Linked DNA regions of Homo sapiens: all the other regions are linked to region 1. The links come from fine-mapping of genetic effects on gene expression. A gene starts in region 1. Each other region holds a variant in brackets. All regions are shown on one strand. Distances are between the middles of the regions.

Region 1 (6,496 bases):
ACCTCCACCTCCTGGGTTCAAGCGATTCTCTTGTCTCAACCTCCCAAGTAGCTGGGATTACAGGCGCCTGCCACCACGCCCAGCTAATTTTTAGTAAATATGGGGTTTCACCATGTTGTCCAGGCTGGTCTCAAACTCCTGACCTCAGGTGATCCACCTGCCTCGGCCTCCCAAAGTGCTGGGATTACAGGCGTGAGCCACTGCACCTGGCCAAGCTCCTGGTTTTCCTCCTGCCTCTCTGGCTGCTCTTCCACCTCCTCTGCCAGAGGTTTGCCTCTGTCTGGCCCTTAGATAAGAGTTCCTCAAGGCTCAGTGGTAGGTCCTCTTCTGATCTAATTGTACACTCTCATAGGAGCCCACAAGCCTCTGGTGACTTCATTACCACTGCCACACCAGCTATTCCAGCCCCAGCCTCTCCTCAGAGCCCCAGACCCTGCAGCCAACCACCTGTTCAACATCTCCACCCGGACATCTCACAGGCACCTCAAACCTACTTTGACCAAATTTGAACCTTGAGAGGGTTCTCCAACTCAGAAAATGGCACCACCATCCATCTGGTTAAAGAAGCAGAGATCTGGGAGTTTTCCTTGATTCATCCCCCCTAAGCAATTACCAAGTCTCGTTGGTGTCTACCTCTCTACATTTGCTCTACTGCTTAAACAAATGGCCCCTCTCACATTATAGCAACAGCCTCCTAACTGTCCCTCCATTCCATTCTTCCCCTTTCCCTATTCCTTCTTCACACTGCAGTCAGAGTGATCTACTTCAAAATGCAAAATTGAGTGTATGACTCTTGTTTCAAATGTCTCAGGATAAAGTCCAAACTCTGTAATGTGGTGTACTGGCCCTGCGTGATCTAACCCCTGCCTGCCTCTCTAACTTCCTCCTCAACCACTTCTTCCTTTATAGTCTGAACCAGCCAGGAACTCCTCATGGACTCCCCAGATGATCTCACCACCTTGCACTCCCTGTGGCCCATATCACAATTGTAATTAATTAATAGTGCATTTAATTGTTAAGCCCCTCTCTCCAGCTAGACTGTGAGCTCCAAGCAGGGAGTGTGTTTGCCATGTTCACCACTCCAGCGCCTAGTCCTGTGCTGCATCTAGAGGATGGCCAGTACATTTTTGTTGAATAAGTGAATAACACATCTCTGCCTACTGATGATGGACCTGGGTCCCAACCTAACAGTAGGGACTATAGCCAAGCGATGTGGAATCTAGCATTGAGTTACTCCCCAAAAGACACAAGGTAACTATTGTAGATATACTCCCAACTGTGTTAAAGCCACCATGGAGAAAATGCCCTTATTTATTTGAGACGGAGTCTTGCTCTGTCGCCCAGGCTGGAGTGCAGTGGCACGATCTCGGCTCAGTGCAACCTCCACCTCCCGAGTTCAAGCAATTCTCCTGCCTCAGCCTGCCAAGTAGCTGGGACTACAGGTGTCCACCACCACACCTGGCTAATTTTTTTGTATTTTTTGTAGAGACGGGGTTTTACCATGTTGGCCAGGGTGGTCTTGAACTCCTGACCTCAAGTGATCCGCCCACCTTGGCCTCCCAAGGTACTGGGATTACAGGCATGAGCCACCGTGCCTGGCCTAAGAATACCCTTATTTTTAAATTTCATGGCCTGGGCAGCCTTGGGCAGCGAGGGACACAAGCTTAATTTCCTAGTTGGTTGCCAGCTGACATTGTAGCAGCTCCTTTACTATAAACTCCTTGGCTGGCCGTTCTTGCAAGCATGTCTGTGGCTACAGGGAGTGCATTTAAAGGGAAGACACATATGCATGGAAACAATATACCAATCTGATGGCACAGAAAATCTTCCTTAGATGTCCGCTTTGTCTCAACACTGCATTTAAATATCAGACAGCAGCCTAGAGATATCTTTATTTAAACCCAGGAACATGGACTCAATATTATTTTGATACAGAATGAAGACATAGACTTCATTTATTAATTTATACTCCCTAGAGTTCTTTTTTTTTTTTTGAGACAGAGTCTCACTCTGTCACCCAGGCTGGAGTACAGTGGCACGATTTCGGCTTACTGCAACCTCCGCCTCCCTGAGTTCGGCGATTGTCCTGCCTCAGCCTCCCAAGTGGCTGGGATTACAGGTACATGTCACCATTAATTTTTGTATTTTTAGTAGAAACAGGGTTTCACCATGTTGGCCAGACAGGTCTCGAACTCCTGACCTTGTGATCCACCCGCCTCGGCCTCCCAAAGTGCTGGGATTACAGGCGTGAGCCACCGCGCCCGGCCTCTACTTCCTAGAGTTCTTAGAGAATTTCTAGCTTCTGTTTCTTTAAACATGTTTTATTAGCTTTCTAAATTATGAAAGTAAATACAACTGGAAAAATACAAAATCCAAAGTCAAGGGAGTAAAAAAATGTAACTCCCTTGTTTCCCCTCCCCGCGTAACCGTGGTTAACAGTCGGTGTGCACCCTTACAGATGTTTTTTCTATGAAAATACAAACATTCGACTTGTTTCTTGGACTTTACCTCGCAGTCCGAGGAGAATCATGTGAACAGCATGAAAGCAGCATGGTCCGAAGACTGCAAACCATAACATTTCCATATCTACTGACTCTGAATTCCTGTTTCTAGAGGACCCGCACCCACGTGGCTCTGTGCATCCGCAGCAACTTGGTCTTTCTTCCTTTGCTGAGTTTGGTTAAGGGAAAGGGCCGATTATTGAGTGGGCTCAGTTCACAGGTGCCTGAAATTCCTACTTAGCAATGTTCCTTTCCAGCTGATTCCGCCTCCGAGAGCCTTAGGAAAAAATGCTAACAGTTAGGAGCGAAGCGTCCTTAATTGCTCAGTCCAATTATCTAGATGGGTCCAGGTTCGGTTTCGATTCAGAGATAAGGACCAGGGGGCGGGGACGCTTCCAGGTGAGCCCCTGGTTAGGCTTGCCTCCCCGCGGAGCGCACGCGGGTCTCGCTGGCTGGACTGGGCCTTTCAAGACCAGGTAACTTCTCCATCCGGTATCGCCAGGCTTACCTGGGGGCCTCAGAATTGTGTCAGCTGCGTCTCTGAGTCACCTTGGAACCCCTCGAAGGAGCGCGGGGCTAGGAGGGCGCATCGGTGGGCCCGGGGACCCCGCTGCTAGGTGTGGTTGGCGCCAAGGCCGCCTCTGGCCGGCGGAGCCCTGCAGTGTCCGGAGGGTGCGGTCAGAGTCCGGCCCTTTAGGCCTTGCCTCGGTATCCGCCTTGCCCCTTGGGCCGCGGCACGGGTTCGGGCCGAGCGCCCGGCATCTTGCGTTTCTGGCTTCCTGAGACGGGCGTGGGACCTCGAGGAAACCACTCTGCATGACCCCACGAAGAGAACTAAGGACCACCCCCCACCCTTCCTGTCCTGGACGGCTTCATAAGCCAGAGGATCCAGTGGCAGTACCAAGCAGGGCACCACTCTGGGTCGTGAGCACCTAAGAGGTGGAGCAAAGGTCAGACCCCAGGGTGGCCCAGGCCTCCCTCCCCCGCCTCCCCGGCGGGGCCATTCCTCACCCGCCCCAGCACTGGAGGGGGCGGCCGGGGTCGGTCTAGTTCCGGTTACAAACTGGACAGAAAAGGCCACTGGAGTCTCGCTAGGCGATGCGCCTAGTCCCCTAGCCTCAGACGAACCGCAAGAGGGGCCACCCACAACTGGAGGGGCGGAGGCTGGAGCTGAGTTTCATTAGTGTTTTTGGAGCTGCCAGGCATTTCCAGGGGGGTCGCCTTCCTAGAGGCCCCCTTTCCCCAGCTTAACCCTCGGCTTTGCAGGAGGGTGCGTGGGGGCTGGAGGGTCCCTGGAAGCCGCAGGGAGCGCGGGCCCGGGTGGGTCCTGGTACCGGGTGGGGAGAGCGGAACCCTCCCAAAACTTGGGGCGCGGGGCGGGGCCGTCGGGCGGTGACGTGAGGGGCGGGGCCGGGCCCCATTGGCGGGCGGGCAGGGGAGGGGCGGGGCCGGGCGCCCGCGGCGGCTGCTGCGCCTGGAACCGGAGCCTGGAGTGAGGCGCAGCGGCAGCGGCAGCAGCGGCAACAAGTGCCGGAGGCTAGCAGAGCCAAGCCGGAGCAGTCCCTGCCGCCGACACCGCCGGGCCGCCCGTCCGGGGCGCCGCGCATGGAGCGTGAGCTGCGGCGGTCGCCGGGCTGAGCCGCGCGGAGCGGCCGGGACGTGGATGTGGCCGCGATCTCCCGCCCTTGCCCCCGCCCCGCCGAGCTGGAGCTGCTCCCGGACAAGGTAGGGCCCGGGCGCCGAGCACCCCCGCCGGCTCCCTCCCCGCTGCCCTCTCACCGCCAGGCCCCTCTACCAGTCCCCTTCCGCCTCCCTGCTTCCCGGCCCCACCTTCCGGACACCCTGCTACCCCCGCCCGGTTCCTCGCCGGTTCCGGCTTCGTACCCGCGCCCCGGTGGAGGAAGCCGTCCCTAGGTGGCTCCTGCCGCATTTAAGCCTCCCTTACCTTCCCGCCGTCCCAGCCACCCAACCTCAGCCCAGAGGGAGAGGAGAGGGACACCGCCCGCTGCGGGGCTTTGGAACCTCCCAACCCATTCCGTGCCCACCTCGCCCTGGAGCCCGGGGACCTTCCCCCTCCTCGCTGCACCCCAACTTCCGGGGGATCCGGCGCCGGGGCGATGCGGGCTTTGGCAAGGGGCATCTGGGGCCGGGCCTCCTCATCCGGGGCGCGCGGGCATTTCGGGGAGGGGGGCGCGCGTGATTCCTCGCTCGCACCCCCGCACCCCACCCTCGCACTGCGCCGGCCTCCCGTGCCGCATGGGGAGATCAGGTGTTTTGTGAGCCAAAGAGCCGCCGGCAGCCGCTCCCCACCCCCCACCCCCAACCTCTGCCACTTCTGTCTCCGGCTCCCCCAAAACTGGTTTCTGCCAAACTTAGGGAAAACCTTTCGCTTTGACCTTTTAAAAAAAATATTCCACACTGTTTGCGTTGAATGATTAACCAGGCTGCTAGCCCGAGTCGTGGGGGTGGGGTGGGGCGGGGTGGGGTGGGTGCTGCCAGGCCAGGGAGCGCCTGAAGCCGGACTCTACGAGACACCCCTCGTGGGAAGGTGGGCGTGGGGGGCCCTGCCGGGGCTGCGGGCGCGGGACTGGCGGCTACTCCAGCACGGCAGGCGGACCCTTCTGGAGGCAATAAACCGAGTCACCCGGTTAATTTCCAGGCCACGGTATTTGAAACTCGGGGCTGGGGAGCCGCAGAACTCCCTGTACCCCCATCAAGTAGAGGAGCCGTCGGGAGACTCCCCACAAGTGTCACAGCGTCAAAGCTCATCTTTAAAAATATGTACATTTATAACCTGGGTTGGCGAGGCGGCGCTCTTCTGCCCAAAACGTAGGGGTGGTTAGTTTGTAGAGTGGGCTTAGCTCACAGGTGCCTGAGCTGTATCCCCGTGGCCGCCTCAGCCACCCCAACTTCTCAGAAAGATTGTTTAGAACAATTAAACTATATTCTTTTGCCCTTCTCTTGTTGGAACCCTACCGTAATATCCGATAGCGAAGCCAGTTGGTGAATATAGAATTCTACTTGTTAAAACAAATTCTTCCGGTATAATTATTTGTGCCTCTGGAGGTGGTAAACGAGGTGGCCGACAGGGCCGGGACTGGGAGTGAAAAGGCGGGGACCCTGGCCGAGCCAGTCCCGGGGCTCCGGTGCCGGCTTATAGTCGCACCCATGCGGATCTGACAGCTGACCCGGAGGGAGGACCGGCAGGGCAGGGCAGGGCGGTCACTTCCCATTGTCCTAACTCCTGCTCCTGGTTCTTTTGAGTAGAGGGTGGTTAAGCCTGGAGGAATTTGGGAGAGTTTTACTCGGAGCCCATGCGCTCTTAAACCAGATTAGATTTTAAGAACACAGAAGTGAAGGAGCCCCATAGGGCTGTACTTGAGTAATTTGAGTAATCCTTTTCCTCCCTGCTCAGACTTTACAAATGTGTTTATCATTAGATCTTCTGTTTGAAACTACTTTTTTAGTTCGGAATATTGCTTTTTCTCCCTACAGCAAGGGTTCACTGTTTCTCATTTAGTTTTTGTGCAGGCGGCATTTGTATGATGAAGGCCTAATTCTCTGTGAAACTGACCAGTTCTCACCCTTGCCATTCATTAGACTTGATTCTGCCACATTTAATTCAGTGATCTTGGGCAAGTTATTCTTCACCTGAGCCTCATTTTACACATCTGGTTTTGGGGATGGTGGTGTTTGCTCTGCAAGATTATTTCTGAGGACAAATAGGATGTTTGCCAAACTCCTAGCACTGCACCAGGAGAGCTAAGAAGTGCTTAATAAATGGTGGTCATTGCTGTAATCAATAGAGAAGTTCCTCCTGGCATCGACTTCCCCTTACCAAAAACAGTAACCCTGTGGTAGCCTTTTAGATTTCCCTGTCTGAGACTGAAATCAGCCACATTTGGCAGATGCACATCAGAAGGTTCTTAAAACCTAAGTAGTATTTTGAGGAAAATAAGCATGATTTGCTTGTTGTTCAAAAATTATGAATTTTT
Region 2 (7,993 bases), 140 kb after region 1:
CCTGCTGATAGCTCATAACCTGCACATTTAAAAGCATTGCACTAAGCAGAATACCCTTTTATCTCCCCTCCCAGGGCTAAATATTTGTGTAATGCTTTAGTGTCTACAAAGCATGTTTTAAAGCGTACATTATCCCATTTAATCCTTGCACAATCCCAAAATGGGAATAATAACTTTCCTTTTATAAATGGGGGGAAATGAGGTCTAAAATGTTGGAGCAGCTTGCCAAAGTCATGCACCCAGAAATGCAGAGTTTGGATATTAATCTCTGAATCTAAATCCAGGGCTCTTTCACCAAAACCAGACGCCTAGTCCCACTTTATCAATACCTTCAACTCTTATGGTTTAGGTTAAACTAGACAAAGTAAACTCTTTTTGCGTAAACTGGATTCTTAGCGCTCACAAAACCTCAGAATTCTTTGTGAGCCTGGAGTTTGCATACCTGTCCTGCCTTCCCTTTCCTTAGCCCGGGTGGTCTGGCAGAGCTGGGAAGGTCGTTGCAGAGTATAAGGTGTACCACTTTCCCCCCAGGGCAAGAGGCCTCTACACCCACCTGGGGCTTCACTGTGGCTGGCCTTGGGTTTGAGCCCTGCCTTTGAACACAGCAGGGGGACACAGTCCCTGCCCTGGGCTGGAAGTAGTTGATTCACGCTGCTGTAACAAAATACCATACACTGGGCAGCTTATAAACAACAGAAATGTATTTCTCATAGTTGTAGAGGCTGGGAAATCCCAAGATGAAAGTTCTGGCAGATTCAGTGTCTGTTGAAGGTCTGCTTCCTGGTTCATAGATGGCGCCGTCTCAATGTGTCCTCACTTGGTAGAAGGAGTGTCGATGAAAAGAGTCCAACTCTGTAAAATATTTGAAGAGATTTATTCCGAGCTAAATATGAGTGACCCATGGCCCATGACACAGCCCTCAGGAGGGCCTGAGAACATGCGCCCAAGGTGGTCAGGGCACAGTTTGGTTTTATACATTTTAGGAAAACATTAGTGTATTAGTCCTTTTTCATACTGCTATAAAGAATGGCTTGAGACCAGGTAATTTATAAAGAAAAGAGGTTTAATTGACTCACAGTTCAGCATGGCTGGGGAGGCCTCAGGAAACTTATAATCATGGCAGAAGGTGAAGCAAGGCACCTTCTTCACAAGGCAGCAGGAAGGAGAAGTGTTGAGCGGAGGGGGAAGAGTCCCTTATAAAACCATCAGATCTCATGAGAACTCACTCACTATCACAAGAACAGCATGGAGGGAACTATCCCTTGATTCAATTACCTCCACCTGGTTTCTCCCTTGACATGTGGGGATTATGGGGATTACTCTTCTAGATGAGATTTAGGTGGGGACACAGAACCTAACCATATCAATGAGACATCAATCTAATACACATAAATGTACATTGGTTTGGTCCAGAAAGGTAGGACAACAGGAAGGAGTGGGGGACTTCCAGGTCATAGGTAGATTCAAAAATTTTTCTGATTGGCAATTGGTTGAAAGAGTTAAGTTATTGTCTAAAGACTTAGGAATGCCTGGGATAAGATAAGGGGTTGTAGAGGCAAGGTTTTCTCATGCAGGTAAAGCCTCTAGGTAGTGGGCTTCAGAGAGAATAGATTGTAAATGTTTCTTATCAGACTTAAAGAGTCTGTTCTATCAGTAATTCCAAAAAGGAGGAGGGTATAGGGAGGCAGTCTGACCCCTCCTTTCCATCATGGCCTGAACTAGTTTTTCAGGTTAGCTTTGGAATGCCCTTGCCAAGAGGAGGGGTCTGTGCAGATGGTGCGGGGCTTAGAATTTTATTTTTGGTTTACAGGAGCAAGGCAGCTCCCTGGGCTTTTTCTACAAAGGCTCTAATCCCACTCATGAGGGCACAGCCCTCACAACCTAATCACCCCCAAAGGCCCCCCCAACCCACCTCCTAACACCATTACCTTGGGGGTTAGGATTTTAACCAGAGAGGAGGAATTTTGGGGGAACACAAACATTCAGACCTTGGCACTCAGGAAGCTGGGAAATGATACCAGGTATTGGAGAGGAAAAATGGCTTTCCTCTATCCTTCTGGTTCATTGGCTAGGCTACTAATTACATTGACATTAGACAGATTAACAGGGGGAAAAACATGTTTAATTCCATGCATACACATGGGAGACCCACAGAAACAGGAGAGTCACAGAAGGGCCAAATGATTGGAGGTTATATAGCATCCTGAGCTACAGAAAGGAACAGGGGCTTGGGGCTTCTGGGGGGTTACCTTACACAGATGAAAAGTCTCTCAGGTAATAAAGCTTGTCTAAGCAGCCTTCTTCCTAATACAGATACTTTTACTAAGGTAAACTTCCTTTATAGATGTGTTTTTTTTTTTTTATAAAAAGAAAGCTTTTCAGAGCTACCCCTGTCTGCAGTTTCTCAGAATAACCAGCTCAAAATATACCAATGAAGTGTATTTTGGGGTGGCATATTTGGGTCTCCTACAGTAATATTTTTGGGTGGTGTGTCCTGAGCCCCAACACAGAAAGACAAACGATGGGGTCTGAGGACAGGTGAGCCAGCCTGAGGGTGAGTGGCTTTGGGTGGGGGACTGGGGAAAGGTCAACTGAATGAGCTGAGGATAGGGATGGGGTATCACATATTCAGGAAATGCTGAACACCCTGGGGGAGGGAAAGAAAACCTGGGGGTTAGAAAGCATGTCTACCAGGTGGGGCATGGTGGCTCAAGCACTTTGGGAGGCCGAGGCAGGTGGATCACCTGAGGCCAGGAGTTTGAGACCAGCCTGGCCAACATGGTGAAACCCCATCTCCACTAAAAATACAAAAAAGTTAGCCAGGGGTATTGGTGTGCACCTGTAATCCTAGCTACTTAGGAGGCTGAAGCAGGAGAATCTCTTGAACTCGAAAGGCAGAGGGTTGCTGTGAGCTGAGATCACGCCACTGCACTCCAGCCTGGGCGACAGAGCAAGACTCCGTCTCAAAAAAAAAAAAAAAAAAAAAAAAAAAAAAAAAAAAAAGCATGTCTACCAGTTTTCAAGTTGAAACACTGCCTCTCCTTCTTATTCTCCTACAATTCTGCTTCCATGGGTTTTCTACATGTGGCAGTGGTTAGGAGGAGTTTTGCAACATTTCAAACAAATGAGCTTTGTGTTTGTAGGGAAGGAAGGCTATCTAAACACTGATATGTCTAGAGAGACTGGTGAAGAACTTTTCCAAATGGGCTGCCAGGCTCTGCAAGCCAGTGAGCTCAGAGAAAAGCTCATCAGGGCCAAGAGAGAACTCTTTCTATATCCTCAGGATCCAGCCCTAGGTACCCGGGACAGCATTCTCTTCCCACCCAGAGAAGCCAGGGTTCCACAGAACTGAGCCTCCTTCCAGCACTAGCGGCTGGTGGGGGTTGAGGATTACCCGTATTTCATCCAACTGGAGACACCATCCACTGTAAGCTGCACTGTTATTTTATGTACCATTATGCAAGAAAAAAAAAAGCCAAATATGGAGACACCACTTAAAAGCTGGGATGCTGTAAGAAAATAAGTCTTCCCACAGGAGTGGCAGGCTGGAAATGCGCACGTCTCAATCCTGACACTGTGGAGGGAGGAACAACAATTCTCTCCTGACAATTTGAACCACGAGCCTGTGCTCATGCAGATTTGAGGTCTGAATTCATGCTGTCAGTGTGGTCTGAAAAAGTCAAGCTGAAAATTAATTTAATGTGGTCTCAGGTTGGTGGTGACCTAGAAGTGACTGGCAGCTGTGCATCATTTCC[A/G]GGAGAACTCAGCTTCGCATTGCAGGACGCCACTCATTTTAAAACACATCCTGGTTTCAGTGATGTTAAATATGAAGAAATGTGTTGCTTAAAATTAATGATGAAGGGGGCCAGGTGCGGTGGCTCACGCCTGTAATCCCAGCACTTTGGGAGGCTGAGGTGGGTGGATCATGAGGTCAAGAGATTGAGACTATCCTGGCCAACACGGTGAAACCCCATCTCTACTAAAAATACAAAAATTAGCTGGGCATGGTGGCGCGTGCCTGTAGTCCCAGCTACTCGGGAGGCTGAGGCAGGAGAATCACTTGAATCCGGGAGGCAGAGGCTGCAGTGAGCCAAGATTCCACCACTGCACTCCAGCCTGGCAACACAGCGAGACTCCATCTCAAAAAAAAAAAAAAAATTAATGATGTATGGGCATGAAACGGATGTGACGTTGGCTGAACTTATTACTAACTTTTCCAGGTTTGTCTGGAACGTTCCTGGTTTTAGCTCTAAAAGCCATGCTCCCTATGAAATCCCTCAGTCCCAGATGAACCACAAAGGTTGATCACTCCACCCATCTGGTTGTCTTTTGGAGTTATCTCCTCTGGCCTAGGGGGCCTTGTTTTTACAGGGGTGGGATGATTGTACCGCAGCACGGACACCTGACCTGGGGGGAGAATAGGGGAATATGGAAATTTAAACTCAGGAATCTGAAGAAATGAGAACACTTTCGGAGAACACTAGGCCTGGCCTAGTTATTCAGTTTCTCTTGGGTTCCTGTGCATTGAAATAATTTCAATAAATTCTCCCTTTTATTTACGTGCTCTTTGAGGGGTGGGGTAATTTCAGTATATCTCTGGCCTTTATAGCTAATGGGGCCCTGACTGAGGTAGGGAGGCAGCCCTGAAAGGCTTTTTAGAGGCTCCAAGACTAGCCTAGGCGCCAGGCTTGCCACTTGGAAAGCTTCCAAGAGAAACCAGCGATGCCTGTCAGCGGGTCTGTGTATGTAGGGGATGGGCTCTCCTTAGGCAGATTTGTCTAAATGAAGCAGAAGTACCATGAGCTCCATCCAACACTGTTGTTATTCTCACAACCCTGTAATTAGAATGATGTGAATTATTCCCTAAACAAAGGCCTAGAGAATAGTTTAACCATCTCTGTTTTATTTGTGTACTAAATAACTGTACTTGGAGTCATGTTTGTTTCCAAGCTCCTTATCACGTGTTTTCCTTTTTCTCTTCCCTGCCTCCTATACCAGTAAACTTCTTGAGGGAAGAGTAAGGTTCTCCTGCTCATACCTGCCTCTCCCAGGGCCCAGCATAGCTGCTTGTTTTCCTGTAAGCTCCTCGAGGACAGGGAGTGGGCCTCTGTGTGTTCCTAACGCCGAGCACCATCGTGACACCTAATAAGTTCTCAGTGAGTGAGTGCTGAACTGAGCTGCCACTTGTAGACTCACCAATAAATACCTGAGCCAAGGATGACGGATTTCCTCATCCAGTCATTCACTGAGTAGTTAATGAATTTGTATTATACGCCTCCATGCAGCTTACATTCTACTGAAAGGCAGACCAAAACCTAGTAAACAGACAAATAAAGTCAGAATAAGGTATGGTAAATGCTGTGGGAAACAAAAAGGAGAAAGAGGCCTAGTTGAGATAGAATAGCCAGGGAAAAACCCCTCTGAGGAGGTGACAGCTGTGAGAAAGGAAACACTTTCTCCCCACTCTCTTAGGTTCAGTGTTGGAGGCCTGTGAATTAAACTGACAAAAGACAGATTGGCAAAACAAAAACAGAATTTTACTCACATACATACATGGGAATTCACAGAAAAATGTGGCTCAAAGAGGTGATTAGGATTGGGGGCTTATATATCTTTTTCACAGGCTCTCAGATGAAAGACCTTTGTCTTTTGGCGGTAGCTCTGACATTTTATGACACAATATACACCCTTAATAGGAGAAGGGGATGGAGAGAAAGGAGACTGGAAAACCAGCGACTTCTAGAAAAGATAAATGGGCCCTAAGGCAAATAGATATGAGGGAGATATGATAGTTTTGTGACCATGTCTATTTAGGAGAGTTTTTATAGCCTTGTGGCTTCCCCTCTGGTGAAGGGAGTCACTCTTCCATGGTTGGGAAACCTCTGGGAAGGGGATCTATGATGGTTGCATTCTTTTGGGAGGCTCTGCTTTTAGGCAGAAAGGGGAGTTTAGGAAAGAAACTCTCTTCACCATGGTATGTTCTGGATCCTTTTGCTAGAAAGTTGGTTTCTTTTTTTTTTTTTTCTTGAAACAGAGTCTTGCTCTGTCACCCAGGCTGGAGTGCAATGGCTTGTGGATGTCCTTCTGCAGCTTTCTCTGTATTCATTGTTATGGACTGAATTGTGTCCCTCCAGATTCATACGGCGAAGCCCTAAACCCCTAATTCGACTGTATTTGGAGGCAGGGCCTACAAGGAGCTAATTAAGATTTAGTGAGGTCACAAGGGTGCAGCCTAAAGCCAAAAGGACCGCTGTCCTTATAAGAAGGGAAAGAGACACGAGAGAGCTCCCACTTCTCTCCTAAGCAAGCACAAAGAAGGGGCCATATGAGGACATAGGAGAAGGCAGCTGTCTACAGGACAGGAAGAAAGGCCTCACCAGAAAGCAGCCCTGACAGCATTTTGATCTTGGACTTCCGGCCTCCAGAACTGAGAAAATAAATCTCTGTTGCTGAAGCCACCCAGTCTGTGGTATTTTGTGATGGCAGCCCTAGCCAACTAATAGACTCGGATTAGTATACACAAAGATCCGTGCACAGGGAGTGTGTCTTATTTGATGTTTATTTGAGCAAAAATGGGATTGGGCTATACTCTCTTTCCTCTGAAACTAGCCTTAGTCATTAACACTATTAAATGGCCGTCTGGCTTCTTGCTGACACCCCACATCCAGTTCCATCAGGACGTCCTGCAGGCTCCACCTTCAAAATCCATCTGGAATCAGACTGCATCCCCCCACCTCGTGGCTTCCACTTGGTGCAAGCCCAATCCTGTCTCTCTCACTTAGCTACAGCAGCCTCTACACCCCTCTCTGCTTCCACCCTTGTCCCTTCAGTCCATTCCCCTCACAGCAGCCAGAGGAACCCTTTGAAATCTGTCAGATCACGTTGCTCCTCAGCTTAGAAATCTTAACTGGTTTCCATTCTACTCAGAGTAAAAACCTATCTTAGCCAGGTGGGGGGAGTGCATTCATTGTCTGTTACTCGGGAGGCTGAGGCAGGAGGATTGCTTGAGTCCAGGAGTTCAAATGCAGCCTGAGCAACACAGTGAGACCCCATCAGTAAAAAACCAAAAAAACCAAAACCAAAGTCTTCACCAGGAGCTGCCAGGCCCTACGTGGTCTACAACATGCATATACATCCCCCGCCCCCCAACATCCCTGCTCTGCTCTCTGACCTTCCCTCCCATCCCCATCTCCTGCTACCCTGGCCTCCTTGATGCTACTAGATCACACTAAGCACATTCCCAAATCAGGGCCTTGGCACTCAGTCTGGAATGCCCGTCCTCCTGATGGCCACAATGTTCCTTCCCTCACTTCCTCCCGGGCTCCATCCCCCAACCCACCACCATTATTCTTCATAGCATTTCTCACCAGCTGATACTATATACTTATTTATTTGTTTATGGCCTGTCTTCCTCCACTAAGATGTGAAATGCATGAGCAAAAAACCTTGTCTTATTCCCTGCTATATCCCTAGCATTTAAACAGTACTAGGTTCATAGATGATGCTCAGTAAATATTCAATAAAGAAATCTCTCCAAGTCACTAAACATAAATATAACAACCTTTTCAATGGTTTTATAACATGTGCTAATATGAATAGATCACAATTCACGAAACCATCTCCCGTTAATGATGTATATGTTGTTTTTCACTTTTTGCTACATTAAGCGATGCTTGTGACAGACATTTTTACGTACCCTTCTCTATTAGTCCTTTTGTTTCTATAGGATATCTTCTCTAAAGCTGGATTGGTGTGTCAAGAGATAGGCATCGGCTGGGTGTGGTGTCTCACACCTGTAATCCCAGCACTTTGGGAGGCCGAGGTGGGCAGATCATGAAGTCAGGAGTTCGAGACCAGCCTGACTAACATGGTGAAACCCCATCTCTACTAAAAATACAAAAATTAGCCGGGCATGGTGGCGTGTGCCTGTAATCCCAGCTACTCAGGAGGGTGAGGTAGGAGAATCTCTTAAACCTGGGAGGCAGAGGTTGTG
Region 3 (7,993 bases), 220 kb after region 1:
CTCTCTCTCTCTCTCTCTCTCTCTGTCGTCTACTCATGGTGTTTGCAACTGCAGGGGCACAAGCCATGGATTTTGTTTCCACCCGAGACAATTGCCTCTCCCCCGACACCTACACCCCAAACTACTCCAGACTCTGCACCCTCTTCTACACACCTCTGGGGTGAGTCCACATTTGCCCAGTAGAAATACCTGCTATCTGATGTTTGACTCAACTCTAAGACTCATTCAACAAATATTTATTGTGCTTTTATTATGTGCCAGGCACTGTCCTAAGATCTGCGGACCTGACTATAAATAAAAATGTCTCCTTTCATGCACTTTACATTTTAACTAGGGAGGCAAATATTAAACACATACATGTAAAATATAATGGGATGTAGTAACAAGTGCAATAAAGGAAAATAAGGCAGGGGATTCAGGGCTATTTCAGATAGGGTAATTGATGAGCTACAACTTTTTTTTTTTTTTTCAGAGATAAGGTCTTGGTGTGTTGCCCAGGCTGGTCTTGAACCCCTAGCCTTAAGCAGTCCTCCTGCCTCAGCCTTCCAAAGTGCTGGGATTACAGGTGTGAGCCACTGTGCCTGGTGCAGTCGCAACTTTTATCAGCACAGATATCTGCTAATATCTGTGCAAAGGCATAGATGAGGTGAGGGAGTAGGGCAGGTGAGTATCTGAGGGAAAAAGGACCTACAAACACAAAGACCAAAGCCGTCTGTCTGGATCTTCCCTGAGATGTGACTCCAGAGTAGCAGCCAAAGAATATGACACTCAGGAAGTCATCTAGGGTTCGAGGTGCTAAAGCCAACTTTTTTCTTTTTCCTTTTTTGAGACAAGGTCTTTCTCTGTTACCCAGGCTGGAATGCAGTGGCGCAAACACGGCTCACTGCAGCCTTGATCTCATGGACTCAATTGATCCTCCCACCTCAGCCTCCCTAGTAGCTGGGACTACAGGTGGGTGACCCCATGCCCGACTAATTTTTGTATTTTTTGTAGAGATGATTTTGCCATGTTGCCCAGCCTGGTCTTGAACTCCTGGACTCAAGTGATTCACCCGCCTTGGCCTCCCAAAGTGCTGGGATTGCAGGTGTGAGCCACCATACCCAGCCTAGAGCCAACATTTCTCTTTTTTTCTATGCTTAGCATCCAAAGCTATCTTTATCAAAATCCACCTGCTAAAGCCCCCGCTAGGACAGCATGTGGGGAGGCTCTAGGCCATTCTGGATTCAGGACCTTCTGGCTCCATTCTGAATACAAAAGCTGACTTTTGACGTGAGAAATCTGACACACTCTTCACTCTCTGAGCCCAGGATTTTCTTTGCCAAAGAGCTGGGCTTCTTTCTGTAGCCAGTGGTGATCCCACAAGCTTGCCTTTGCTTATATCAAAGACTCCAGATCTCCAGTTGAATGTCTCCACCAAGACATCAGAGTTGAAATTAAAAAGAGCATTTCTTTCAGAGAATAAGCCCAAGCTTTGGAGATCTGGTTTGTACCCAGTCCCTGTTCCAGGCCAGCCTGCTCTGTCCCTTGCTCATTTAATTTTCTAGGTTAACAAACAGAGCAAAGTTTCCAGGTGTGCTTGCAGAATATCACCTGGAACATTATTTGGAGGAGAGAGGCAGGGTGCTGAGCTTTTTCTGAAGCTTTTTCTGAAGGCTTATATTCTGTAGGTCAGGGAGCCAGTTACTTACAAGTAAAACTGTCCCCAACAAGATTGCTCTATCAGGGCCCATTTGGGGTTGGCTTTTCTAGCATATGAGTCTAGCATATGAATCAGGCCAGGTGTGGTGGCTCACACCGGTAATCCTAGTGCTTAGGGAGGCTAAAGGGAGCCGGTTGCTTGAGACCAGGGGTTTGAGATCAGCCTGGTCAACATAGTGAGACTCCATTGCTACAAAAAATTAAAAAATTACCCAGGCATGGTGGCACGTGCCTGTAGTCCTAGCTAATTGGGAGGCTGAGGCAGGAGGATTGCTTGAGCCCAGTAGTTCGAGGTTGCAGTGAGCCGTGATTGTGCCACTGTACTCCAGCCTGGGTGACAGAATGAGACCCTGTCTCTAAAAAAAATATAAAAATTAAAAAAAAAGTATGAATCAAGTATAGCCTGAGTGGACTCTGGGTGGACAAGGGGACTGGTTTCATCTGGTTACTTGACTCAGAAAGTCAAAAATAGGCTGGGCATGGTGGCTCACGCCTGTAATCCCAGCACTTTGGGAAGTCAGGGTGGATGGATCACTTGAGGTCAGGAGTTCAAGGCCAGCCTGGCCAACATGGTGAAACCCCATCTCTACTAGAAATACAAAAATTAGCTGGGTGTGGTGGCACGCCCCTGTAATCCCAGCTACTCAGGAGGCTGATGTGGGAGAATTGCTTGAACCTGGGAGGCAGAGGTTGCAGTGAGCCTAGATCGTGCCATTGCACTACAGCTTGGGTGACAGATTGAGACCCTGTCTCAAAAAAAAAAAAAAAAAAAAAGTCAAAGATACCTGAGGTCTTTTCTTCAGTGTCTGCATTCTCAATGTTCATTTCATACCCGAGAAGCAAAGCCAGGCAAGGCAGCCTGGTAAATGGGCCCGGATCTTTTCCCAGAGAGCACTTTGTAACCTTGATAACAAGACTCAAATGACCTCCACCAAAATCAAAAACAAAACTAACAAAAGCCCATTTGAATGTTAGAAAACATCTTCACAATGAATCTAGTCTTTCTGTTTTTGTGGTTTCGGCAGCTGCTTTATTTGGGTGTGTTCTTGACAGTCATGGTTTCAGAGGGTTCTTCTATCCAAGAGGAAGTCAGTCCTCTGAAGACCAAGTTTGCGTACTGGACAATTTGAGCTGACAGCAGCTGCCAACTCATGCTCGGCTCTTCACGGTGGACTGTCTCTTGTGCAGGTCAGCTTGTCCTGGCAGATGCTATCCATGGCAGTGCTTCCCTGCCTGGGCCTGGGGAGAGGCCCTCCTGGGAGATTCCTCTTCTGGCTGAGCCTGTACCTGGGCCTGTGTGCAGGTAAGGAAGGCAGGTCATTGCTGCCTTGAAACTAATCCAGTGGATGTACCTGGATCAGAAGACAAAATGAACTCACCAAATGTCAAATCATTGTTAACCAGGGCAAAGACTTACTTGTCCTCTCCCTGCCATGAGAAACAGCTCTGCCAACCACTGTCACATCTCCAGTGAGGGCTCTCATGGTATTTGCAGTGTGTGTGGTTGTTGTTTTTTGGAAGATGGGATCTAGAGAGTAAGAGGGTGTAGGGGTATAGGACTGGCAGCATTGGCAAGGGCTTAGAGCAAGGACATTTGGTAGCTGCCCGTGGGAGTGTAAACATTTCAGGAGGCCAATCTGGCAATGTGTGTCACGCCCAGAACAGTCCTGGCTTATTGTTATTTATTAATTACTATGGATTTTTAATATTATCTTTTTTCACTCTCAAAGAATCCTGCTTTGTAGAATAAATGATATAATCACCCAACCTTTGGTGTGCCTTTAGGGAATGTATCCTAAGAATATGTACAAAGATGTAGATTTAGGGATGTTTACCACAGGGGTACCAGGCTTAAAGAAAAGCTAGAGATAAGTTATGTGGTTAATAACAGAGAATTAACTAAATTAGTTAAATAAATTATAGTACATTCCACACAGTAGAATGCTAGATAGCCATTAAAATGAAATGTGGAAAAATATATAGTTCCATGGGAATATATGCATATTATTAAGGAAAATTACTAAACATTTTTTATATATAACACTATTATATATAGTGTTTAGTAATATATATAGTGTTTAGTAATTTAATATTAAATACTATATATATTTAGTAATTCACTATATATAGTAATTTAACATTAATGATTATATATTATCATGCAAACCTAGTTTACAAAGAAAAAAACATATGCACTGAACAAAAGACTTGAAGAATATACACTAAGCCATCATCAGTGGTTATCTCCAGGAAGTGGAATTAGAAGTGTCATGTACTTTCTTTTATGCCTTTTCTGTATTCCTACATTTTCTACAAGGAATGTGTATGTTGTAGGCAGAATAATAACATCAAAGATGTCCACCTCGTAATCCTCAGAACCTGTGAATATGCTAGCTTACATGGCAAAAGGGAACTACGTCTACAGATAGAATGAAGGTTGCTGATCAGCTGCCTTTGAGAAGGGGAGTGTATCCTGGATCATCCAGGGGAGTCCAGTGCAATGTCAAAGGTCCTTAAAACAGGGAAGAGGGGCCTGGCATGGTGGCTCACGCCTATAATCCCAGTACTTTGGGAGGCCGAGGCGGGCAGATCACGAGGTCAGGAGATTGAGACAATCCTGGCTAACACGATGAGACCCCGTCTCTACTAAAAATACAAAAAAAAAAAAAAATTAGCTGGATGTGTTGGTGGGCGATTGTGGTCCCAGCTACTCAGGAGGATAAGGCAGGAGAATGGCGTGAATCCGGGAGGTGGAGCTTGCAGTGAGCTGAGATCGCGCCACTGCACTCCAGCCTGGGTGACAGAGCAAGACTTTGTCTCAAAATAAATACATAAATAAATAAAATGGGGAAGAGGGAGGCAGAAGAGTGAATGTCAGAGTGATGTGATATGATGTGAGGAAGGCTTGACCAGCCATGGCTGGCTTTGAAGAAGGGGCCATGAGCCAAGGCATGTGGAAGCCTCTAGGAGGTGCAAAAGGTGAATGGATTCCAAAAGGAATACAGTCCTGTTGCACCTTGATTTTAGCCCAGAGAGACCCATTTTGGACTTCTGACCTCCAGAACTATGAGATAATAAATCTGTGCTGTTTTAAGCCACTAAGTGTATGATAATTTGTTATAGCAGCAATAGGAAACTAAC[A/G]CAAGAAATTTCCTTTTTAGTCAGAAAAAAAAGATAATAAGAAAAGTCATTTTTAAAGAGAGGATTGGGCTGGGCTCGGTGGCTCATGTCTGTAATCCCAGCACTTCGGGAGGCCAAGGCAGATGGATCACTTGAGGTCAGAAGTTTGAGGCCAGTCTGGGCAACACAGCAAGGCCCTGTCTCTACAAAAAAATGAAAAAATTAGCCAGCCATGGTGGAGTGCACCTGTAGTCTCAGCTACTTGGGAAGCTGAGGCAGGAGGATTGCCTGAGCCCAGGAGTTTGAGGCTACAGTGAGCTGTAATGGCACCACTGCACTCCAACCTGTGTGATAGAGCAGCATCTTGTCTCAAAATAATAATAATAATAATAATAATAAAATAGAGGATTAGAAATCATTCTTTGTAATCTAACCCAACAGCCATCCAGGGAGGAGGCCTATAATCTGCATGAGGAGCTTCTAGAACTAGCTGGCTGTTGTTTTGTTATTAGCAGAAAACAATAATATTGTCAATAAGTAAATAATCAAGAACCCCAAGCAGATTTAACCCAAAGAAGACTACCTTAAGGCATTTAATAATCAAACTCCCAAAAGTCAAGGATAAAAAAAAGACTCTAAAAGCAGCAAGAGAAAAGAAACAAATAACATGCAATGGAGCCCAAATATATCTGGCAGCAGGCTTTTCAGTAGAAAACTTTACAGGCCAAGAAAGAGTGGCATGACATATTAAAAATACTGAAGGAAACAAAACTACCCTGGAATAGTATATCCGGTGAAATATCCTTCAAACATGAAGAAGAAATAAAGACTTTCCCAGACAAACAAAAGCTGAAGGATTTAATCAACTCCAGACCTATCCTACCAGAAATGCTAAAGGGAGATTTCAATTGGAAAGAAAAGGACATTAATGAGCAATAAGAAATTATCTGAAGGTACAAAGCTCACTGCCAATAGTAAATACACAGAAAAACACAGAATATGATAACACTGTAACTGTAGTTTGTAAACTACTTTTATCCTAAGTAGAAAGAATAAACGATGAACCAGTCAAAAATAATAACTACAACAACCTTTCAAGACATAGTCAGTAAAATAAGATAAAAATAGGCCAGGTGCAGTGGCACACACATGTAACCCCAGCACTTTGGGAAGCTGAGGCGGGTGGATCACTTGAGGTCAGGAGTTCAAGACCAGCCTGGCCAACATGGTGAAATCCTGTCTCTAGTAAAAATACAAAAATTAGCTGGGTGTGGTGGTGCATTCCTGTAATCCCAGCTACTCAGGAGGCAAGGCAGGAGAATTGCTTTAAGATCATGCCACTGTACTCCAGCCTAGGTGATAGAGCGAGACTCTGTCTCAAAAAAAAAAAAAAAAAAAAAGATATATAAATAGAAACAACAAAAATTTAAAAAGCTGGGGGATGAAGTTAAGCCATAGAGATTTTATTAGTTTTCTTTTTGCTTGTTTGTTTATGCAGAGTGTTAAGTTGTTATCAGGTTAAAATAATGTGTTATGGCCAGGCGCGGTGGCTCACGCCTGTAATCCCAGCACTTTGGGAGGCCAAGGCAGGCAGATCACGAGGTCAGGAGATGGAGACCATCTTGGCTAACACAGTGAAACTCCGTCTCTACTAAATATACAAAAAATTAGCTGGGCGTGGTGGCAGGAGCCCATAGTCCCAGCTACTCAGGAGGCTGAACCAGGAGAATGGCATGAACCCAGGAGGCGGAGCTTGCAGTGAGCCGAGATCATGCCACTGCACTCCATCCTGGGGGACAGAGCGAGACTCCGTCTCAAAAAAAAATGTGCTATAAGATAGCATTTGCAAGCCTCATGGTAACCTCATACAATTAATACACAAAAAATAAAAAGCAAGAAACTAAATCATATCACCAGAGGAAACCATTTTCACTAAAGGGAAACAGGAAGGAGACAAAAAAGACCAGAAAATAAATAACAAAGTGGCAGGAATAAGTCCTTACTTATCAATAATAACATTGAATGTAAATGGACTAAATTCTCCAATCAAAAGACATAGAATGACTGGCTGAATGGATGAAAAAATAAGACCTATTGATCTGTTGCCTACAAGAAACACACTTCACCTATAAAGACACATATACACTGAAAATAAAGGGATGGAAAAAGATATTCCATGCCAACAGAAACCAAAAAAGAGCAGGAGTAGCTATGCTTATATCAGACAAAATATATTTTGAAACAAAAACCTATAAGAAGAGACAAAGATCGCTATATAATGATAAAGGGGTCAATTCAGCAAAAGGATATAACAATGTTAAATATATATGTACCCAACACTGGAATACCCAGATATATAAAGCAAATATTAATTAGAGATAAGGAGAGAGATAGGCCCCAGTGCAATAACAGCTGGAGACTTCAACACCGCACCTTCGGCATTGGACAGATCTTCCAGACAGAAAATCAACAAAGAAACATCAGATTAATCTGCACTATAGGCCAAATGGATCTAATTGGTATTTACAGAACATTTCATCCAATGGCTGCAGAATACACATTCCTTTCCTCAGCACATGGCTCGTTCTCAAGGATAGACCATGTTAGGTCACAAAACAGGTCTTAAAACATCCAAAAAAATCAAAATAATATCCAGCATCTTCTCTGACCACAATGGAATAAAACTAGAAATTAATAACAAGAGGAATTTTGGGAACTATACAAATACATAGAAATTAATATGTTCCTGAATGACCAATGAGTCAATGAAGAAATTGAGAGGGAATTTGAAAAATTTCTTGACATGAATGACAATGGAAACACAACATGCCAAAACCCATGGAATACAGCAAAAGCAGTACTCAGAGGGACATTTATAGCTTTAAGTGCCTACAACAAAAAAGAGGAAAAACTTCAAATAAACAATCAATGATGCGTCTTAAAGAACTAGAAAAGCAAGAGCAAACCAAAACCAAAATTAGTAGAAGAAAAAAAAAATAAAGATCAGAGAAAAAATAAATGACATTGAAATGAAAAAAATTATATAAAAGATCAACAAGACAAAAAGTTAGTGTTTTGAAAAGTTAAACAAAATTGACAAACCTTTAGCTAGACTAAGAAAAAAAGAGAGAAGATCCAAATAAATAAAATCAGAAATGAAAAAGGAGATATTACA
Region 4 (7,993 bases), 92 kb after region 1:
GTATTTTTATAATAGCAACCCTGTTAATGGATGATGTAACATGACATCTCACTGTCATTTTGATTTGCATTTCCCTCATGACTGACAATGAGCATCTTTTCATATCCTTATTGGTCATTTATCTTCTTTGGAGAAATGTCACAATCCTTTGCCAGTTGGTAGGATTTTGATTGTTTTCCTTTTGCTTTTCTGCATTTCTTATTTGGATGCAACAGCAAGAGTTGCTTGTGTAAGAACAAATAAAAGAACCAGGATAGAGCCAGGTGTGGTGGTACATGCCTATAGTCCCAGCTACTTGGGATGCTGAGTTGGGAGGATTGCTTGAGCCCAGGAGTTCAAGTTCAGCCTCAGCAATGTAATGAGACCTTGTTTCATTTAAATGTGTGTGTATATATGTATGTATGTGCACAAAAGATTTGACCAGACTTCACAAAAGAAAATATATGAATACCTAAGGCTGGGTGTGGTGGCTGATGCCTGTGATCCTAGCACTTTGGAAGGCTGAGATGGCCGGATCACCTGAGGTCAGGAGTTTGAGACCAGCCTGCCCAGCATGGTGAAAGTCTGTCTCTACTAAAAATACAAAAAATTAGCTGGGCCTGGTGGCTCATGCCTGTAATTCCAGCTACTCGGGAGGCTGAGGCAAGAGAATCGCTTGAGCCTTGGAGGCAGAGGTTGCAGTGAGCCGAGATTGTGCAACTGCACTCCAGCCTGGGTAACAAGAGTGAAACTCCATCTCAAAAAAAAAAAAAAAAAGAAAATATATCAATAAACATACTAAAAGGTACTCAACATCATTATTTATCAGAGGAAAGCACATTAAAACCACAATACAATACCACTACCTAACCACTAGAATGACTAGGATTAAAAGATTGACAGAACCAACTGTCAATCTTGCTGGCAAGGATGTGGAACAACTGGAATTCTCATACATTGCTGGTAGAAATGTAAAATGTATAACCACTTTGGAAAATAGTTTGGCAGTTTCTCAGAAAGTTAAGTTAAATATATACTTACAATGGAACCTAGCACTTCTAGGTATTTATCCAAGAGAAATGAAACATACGCCCATGAAAAGACTTACGCATGAATGTTCATGGCATTATTTATAGTGGCCCCAATCTGAAAATGACCCAAATGTCTATCAACAGAGGAATGAATAAACAAACTATGGTATAGTCATACTGTAATTGCCTGACAGGTTCTTCCTGCCCACTGCACAGACAAAACCAAATCACTGAGACCGTTGTATTGTAGTGGAGAAAGGATTTAATTAATACAAGGCCACCTAGTGGAAGGACTGGTGTTATCTCTCAAATCAGTCTCCCCAAGGGCTTGGAAGTTAGGGTTTTTAAAGAATAGTTTGGTGGGTGAGGGACTAGGGAACGAGTGCTGCTGATTGGGTTGAGGATGCAATCATAGGAGTATGGAAAACAGTCCTTGTGCACAGAGTCTGCCTCTGGGTCGGGGGCCACGGACCAGTTGAGTCATGAGTCACAAGTCCAGGTGGGGTCAGTTGGGTTCCAGAATGGAAAAGTCTGAAAAACATCTCAAAAGACCAATCTTAGGTTCTACAATAGTGATGTTATCTGTTGGAGCAATTGGAGAAATCACAAATCTTGTGACTTCTGGCCATGTGACTCCTGAGCAGTAAGGAGTTATAGAGACTATACCTACAGCTGGGCATAATAGCTCATGCCTGTAGTCCCAGCACTCTGGGAGGCTGAGGTGGGAGGATTGCTTGAGCACAGGAGTTTAAGACCAACCTCGGCAACATGATGGGATGCCATCTCTACAAAAAATACAAAAATTAGCTGGGTGTGGTAGTGCACACCTGTAGTCCCAGCTACTCAGGAGGCTGAGGTAGGGGGATCACTTGAGTCTGGGAGGTTGAGGCTGCAGTGAGTTGTGATGGCACCACTGCACTGCAGCCTGGGGGACAGAGTGACACCTGGTTTCAAAAAAGAAAGGAAAAGAAAGGAAGGAAAGGGGAGTGGAAGGGAGAGGTGGAGGCGGGGAAGAGGAAGGGGAAGGGGAGGGAAGGGATTACACCTATATTTTAGCAGAGTTCATGTCTCCTCTCATAATCCTAATCTTATGGCCTTTCATTAGTTTTGGTCCCTGAGCAAGGGGGCAGAGGTTAGTTTTAGGGAGGGACTATTATCGTCTTTGTTTCCAAGTTAAACTGTAAGCTAAATTCCTCCCATGGTTAGCTTGGCCTGTGCATAGGAATGAGCAAAGATGCCAGCCTGCGAGGCTAAAAGCAAGATGGAGTCAGCTGTGTTATATTTCTCTCACTATCATAGTCTTTGCAAAGGCAGTTTCAACACAAGGGCTACTACTCAATAATAAAATGAACAAACCGCTGATGCATGCAAGAACATAGATACTTCTCAAAAACATCATGCTAAGCAAAGAAAGCCATACACAGAAGAGTATATGCTGTGTGAGTCTATTGACATGAAATTGCCAGAGGCTGGGGGTGGGAGAAGGAATTAACTGCGAGGAGGCAGTCAAGGGAAATCAGGGGGTGATGGAAATGTTCTCCAACTTGACTGTGATGGAGTGAGCATCTAAAAACTAATAGAACTGCACAGTAAAAAGGTACATTCAATTGTATGCAAATTATACCTGAGAAAGTTAATTTAAAAAGCAGTAGAAGTAGAGGAGGAAGAGGAGTAGGGATAGAAATAGCAAGAAGATGAACGGTAGAAGAGGAGGAGGAGAATCAGGAGAAGAAAATTACCATGTAGAAATGATAATACGCTCCCAGTCAATCCATCGCCCACGATGTGCCTGTCACTGTTAAGTGCCAGGGAGGGGTATTCTGTAAAAAGTGAAAGACCTGTCCCCTGTCACTAGGAGTTTACAGTCTATTGGAGAGGTGAAATATTCTTCAGAATCCCAAAGTGTGAGAAATGACAAATCAAATTCATATGCTCCCCCCACTAGGGTTAGTGGGAAATCAGTCTCTGTCATTGTTTAGGATTTCCTCCCTCCTCCCCCACTTCATCCACCCAGCCCAAGGTGTGCATGTGACGCCCAGGCTTACACTGTCTTAGGGAAGAGGGAAGAGGCCCCGTCTTCGGTCCAGCATTGGCTGCTTCTCCTCGTGCAATTTGTCCACAGCCCTTCTGATCTCATCCATGCTCATGACTCCTCCTCTTTCTTTTTATTTTTTATTTTTTTTGAGATGGAGTCTCGCTCTGTCGCCCAGGCTGGAGGTCAGGGGCGCGATCTCAGCTCACTGCAAGCTCCGCCTCCGGGTTCACGCCATTCTCCCGCCTCAGCCTCCCGAGTAGCTGGGACTACAGGCGCCCGCCATCATGCCCAGCTAATTTTTTTGTATTTTTAGTAGAGACGGGGTTTCACCGTGTTAGCCAGGATGGTCTCGATCTCCTGACCTCGTGATCCGCCCACCTTGGCCTCCCAAAGTGCTGGGATTACAGGCGTGAGCCACCGCGCCCGGCTGACTCCTCCTCCTTCAAACCAAGCTAGGACACTTCTTTGCAGAGGTTCTCAGGCCTCTGCCTCTGGTGCCACAGTCGCTGACCTTCAGGACGTGTCATTCCCAGGGTGCAGATCCCCCAGTCATGAGGCCTGCAGAAGGCCGATGGCTCACGCACCTCATCCTTCCCTCCACTTTGGCTGCTTCCTTCTCTAGCCTCCTTCCAAGCCATCCCACCAGCTCTTTACTCACTTCCTAAAAATAAAGCCTTCACCTCTCTGGGTAGGGGAAACCCATGCCCCAGGACTTGAGGCCTGGCTATCCAATAGGAGGAGAGGTATAGTTCATTTTTTTCATTATGCGCCTACAGCCCAGAAAACAAGGGGCAGTTACTTTTTCTTTTTTTTGTTGGGCCTCACTTTATCCCCCAGGCAGTGGTGCAATCTCAGCTCACTGCACCCTCAACTTCTGGGGCTCAAGCGGTCCTCCTACCTCAGTCCCCCAAGTAGCTGGGACTACAGGACATACTACCATGCCCAGCTTTGCCATGTTGACCAGGCTGGTCTTGAACTCCTGAGCTCAAGCAATCTGCCCACCTCAGCCTCCCAAAAGTGCTGGGATTACAGGTGTGAGCGACCGTACCCAGCCTGGGGCAATTAGTTTCTTAGCCTGGTTGTTCTATTAGACTGCTGCAGGGGTCTGGTTCTAAAAAGATAGAGGGTGTTGGATGTCCATTGTGGGTGAGATGGCTCAGAGGGTGATTAGTGCCTGTCAGTTGAGTGTGGTGACCTCGTGAGGGGTGGGGCTGGTGGCAGGGAGCCAGGAGCTCCTGAAACAGAGGATGCCTCAGTGTCCTGGCACTGTGCCCAGTCTGTCTGGGGCCAGTCTCTCACCAGCTGAAATGTATGTGGTTACAGGAGAAAGGG[C/T]ACCACACTGGGTGACAGAGCAGCTAGTTTCAGGAGGTGTGAGCCCAAAGAAATCCTGGCTTTGGGGAATTTGAGGGAGGTGGCAGTTTCAGAGAATCTGAAAGTCAGCCCATAATCCAAAACCAAGGAGAGAAGGCACCAAGCTCCACCCAGCCTCTGGCCACTGGCTAACTCTGAATGGGAAATGGGCCTACTATTTGCTGTGCATAACCTGCCCATCCCCCAGGATTTCTAAGAAGTGCTTGGCCTGTGTTTCTTGGTTCTCCTGAGAGCCAGATGTTTAATAATTTGAGTACATTTGAACTTGAAAATGCAAAAACATCCTTCTAGCTGCATCCTCCTTTTCCTTCCAGGGCCAGAATGATGTAGTGGGAGAACTTGATTCTGAAATCAAATGGAAAGTGCTTTTGTTTCTGGAGGTTAGAAAAAAAAAATTGTCAAAGAGCCAGGGCCTCATCTCTAAAAAGAAAACGTGAAATGGGCCATGAGTCCTGCTTAATAATTCAGAGATCAAACAGAGCCAACAAGAAGCTGGAGTGAACGATCAGATATACTCACACCCTTCTCTTTTTATCAGCTTGCAAATATTCTCGTTGGCAGCTGGTTAGAGAGAAGCAGTCCATCACAAATAAGCTAAACCATGCGTTCATTCACTTATTCAACAAAATCTTCATGACCGCCTCTTATAGCAGACGTCGCTAGTGCTGGGGATGCAATCCAGAACCAGCATGTGTCCCTCTGCTTCAGGGACCTCAGGATCTATATCATGATTCTCAAACTTTCATGTCCATCAGACTCCCCTGGATGGCTTGTTAAAACACAGATTCCTGGGTCCTACCTGTGGAGTTTCCAATTCAATAGGTCTGGGATGGCCTGAGCATTTGTATTCCTGAAGAGTTCCCAAGTGATGCTGATATTGCTGGTCCTGGGACCACCCTTTGAAAACCACTGGGCAAAGCAACCATGTCAGCCAACCATTTTCACCTCTCAGCATTACATGGCTCACTGTAGGAAATTCGAAGCCCTGGATAGGTTGCTAGAGGCCTGAGCTTACCAGCCCAAGAGCTGTGGCCATCCCAGGCCCACATAGCAAAGGGCACAAATATCTTAAGGCACACTTATGTCTAGGGAGACTGTCCAGGGGCCCTGGAACCCTCCCGAGAGAGGAGGAGGTACAGCTTTGAGAGATCTTCTATTGACTTCTCAATGGAAATGGAGACCTCACAGCACCACCATTTCACCACCAGCCCAGTGAGAGCCTAGAGCTCTGGGAGCCTGAGTCTGGGCTGTGGTGCAACGTGTGGTGCAAGGCTTCCACGTTTTCATCCTGCCTCCACCTAGAGCCTCTGCTGATCCCTTCCTGTCACATTCTTGACAACCCAAATAGCTCATTTCCCTTCCATGCTCACAGCTGGAGTAGGCAGGTGAGATCCCAAATGGGCCTCGGAGGCCTTTTCCAACTGAGTGGACACAGAGACATCATATATATCCACATGTAATATAGCAAATGGCAGATCATCTTGTGGGTCAAAATCTGCAAAAATCATTGGTTTTTCTTCTAACAGCTTTATTGACATATAATTTACAATTCACCCATCTAAAGTACACAATTCAGTGTTTTTTAGTACAGTCACAAAGGTTGCCTGTTCATCTTCATAATCAATTTTAGAACATTTTCATCACTTCAAAAAGAAACCCTGTACCCTTTAGTCACCCATCCCTCAACCACCCCCCAGCTATAGGCAACAACTCACCTACTTTTTGTCTCTATCGATTTGCCTATTTTGGACATTTCATACACATGGAATCATGCTATATGTGGCCTTTTGTGATTGGCTTCAAAATTACTTTTAACAGGGACATGGGATGACCTACATGTGAGTCCAAAAGATCATTGGCAGAAAGACAAGGTGGAGACAAATGGTTTAGGTTTACTTAATCTTGGAGTTCCAGTTGTCCCAGGGTGCTAATTCCCACCTCAGGAGGCTGTGGTGGGGAGTATGAAGGACCAGCGCAGACCTGGTTCCCAGATGCTCAGGGTGGAGGAGACTTGCTAGTGAAGAGAAGAGGCCTAGTATAATATTGTAAAATATATATTTGGGCCGGGCGTGGTGGCTCATGCCTGTAATCCCAGGACTTTGGGAGGCTGAGGCAGGTGGATCACTTGAGGCCAGGAGTTTGAGACCAGCCTGGCCAACATGGTGAACCCCCCCATCTCTACTAAAAATACAAAAATTAGCCAGGCATGGTGGTGGGTGCCTGTAGTCCCAGCTACTTGGGAGGCTGAGGCAGGAGAATCGCTTGAACCCGGGAGGCGGAGGTTGCAGTGAGCTGAGATTGTGCCACTGCACTCCAGCCTGGGTGACAGAGCAAGACTCCATCTAAAAAAAATTATATATATATACACACACACACACACACACACACACACACACACACACACATATATATATATATATATATATATAGAGAGAGAGAGAGAGAGAGAGAGAGAGTCTTATTCCGGTCTCCTAGCATACTCCTAAAATCCTTGGGAACTCCAAAGTCTTTTTGTTTGCTAATGAGTTGATCCATGGCTGGCAGCCCCTACCTAACTTCAGGATGTGAGCTGGTCACCAAAAAGACCAAGGCAGGATTAGAGGGATGGAACTTTCAGCTCTCCCTGCAATTCCTTATCTTATGCATCTCTTCATTTGGAGGAGAGGGGGCTAAAGTTTGGGTTAAGCACCAAAGGCCAATGGCTTAATCATGCCTGCCTCCATAATAACCCGAAAAGTTCTGGTTCAGAGAGCTTCTGGACAGCTGAGCATGAGGAGGTTCTGGGAGGGTGGCAAATACTGAGAGGGCACGGAAGCTCCAGACTCCATACCTCAACTTATGTATCTCTTCATTTCCTTTGTAATAAGCTTTATAAAAAAAAAAACGGTAAATGTGTTTCCTTGAGTTCTGTGAGCCACTCTAGCAAATTAATTGAACCCAAGGAGGGGGGCATGGGAACCTGGATCAATAGCCAGTTGGCAAGAAGCACAGACAAAATAATGAAACCACCTTTGCAAAGATGGTGATAATGAGAGAAATCTAACATGGCTGACTCCATCTTGCTTCTGGCCTCACAGGCTGGCTGTCTTCACTCATTCCTGGGCACAGGCTGAGCTAACCATGGGAGGAAGTTAGTTTATAGTTGAATTTGGAAGCAAAGATGATAACAGTCCCTTCCTAAAACATATCCCCTCCCTGTTTGGGGACTAAAACTGCCTTTGCAAGACTAATTAGGATTGTGGGAAAGGACTGAATTCTGCTAAAATATAGGCATAGTTTCTACAATTCTTTGCTGCTCAGGAGTCATGTGGCCAGAGGTCAGAAGGTTTGCAACTTCCTCAGTTGCTCCTATAGTAGAACCTAAGATTTGTCTTTTGAGATCTTTTTCAGACTTTTGTATTCTGGAAACCAACTGACCCCACTGAGACTTATAACTCATGACTTAACTAGTCCTGCGGTCCCTGACCCAGGAGCCGACTGAGGGCACGAGAACTGTTTTCCACGCCCCTATGATTGCATCCCCAAACAATCAGCAGCACCCATTCTCTAGTTCTCTGGCCACCAAACTATCCTTGAC

Evidence for each region. PIP is the estimated chance that this variant, and not a neighbour inherited with it, causes the effect. A credible set is the group of variants that fine-mapping cannot tell apart.
Region 2: its variant is the best candidate, but not a certain one, in a credible set for the expression of B3GNT2 in blood mononuclear cells (TOPMed, PIP 0.66).
Region 3: its variant is the best candidate, but not a certain one, in a credible set for the expression of B3GNT2 in T cells (TOPMed, PIP 0.68).
Region 4: its variant is the best candidate, but not a certain one, in a credible set for the expression of B3GNT2 in lung (TOPMed, PIP 0.64).

What each region holds. Positions count from the first base shown.
Region 1 is chr2:62,192,130-62,198,625 of GRCh38, forward strand. It overlaps B3GNT2 (UDP-GlcNAc:betaGal beta-1,3-N-acetylglucosaminyltransferase 2), which reads left to right and starts at 3,986. Exons shown (of 2, transcript NM_006577.6): 1 at 3,986-4,226. LOC124906013 (a long non-coding RNA gene) reads right to left here and starts at 3,884. Exons shown (of 2, transcript XR_007086336.1): 1 at 3,010-3,884; 2 at 1,860-2,778. RefSeq lists enhancers at 2,471-3,078, 3,685-4,291, 5,272-5,381 and silencers at 3,372-3,601, 3,892-4,331, 4,512-4,861.
Region 2 is chr2:62,329,442-62,337,434 of GRCh38, forward strand. No RefSeq gene overlaps it. Among named protein-coding and RNA genes, the nearest start is that of MIR5192, 130 kb to the left of the region's middle. RefSeq lists an enhancer at 4,563-4,792. The variant A/G (reference allele first, on the strand shown) is at 3,756.
Region 3 is chr2:62,412,429-62,420,421 of GRCh38, forward strand. It overlaps LOC105374764 (a long non-coding RNA gene), which reads left to right and starts at 2,765. Exons shown (of 6, transcript XR_002959390.2): 1 at 2,765-3,001. RefSeq lists an enhancer at 2,927-2,996. The variant A/G (reference allele first, on the strand shown) is at 4,840.
Region 4 is chr2:62,283,789-62,291,781 of GRCh38, forward strand. No RefSeq gene overlaps it. Among named protein-coding and RNA genes, the nearest start is that of MIR5192, 82 kb to the left of the region's middle. RefSeq lists a silencer at 4,086-4,380. The variant C/T (reference allele first, on the strand shown) is at 4,378.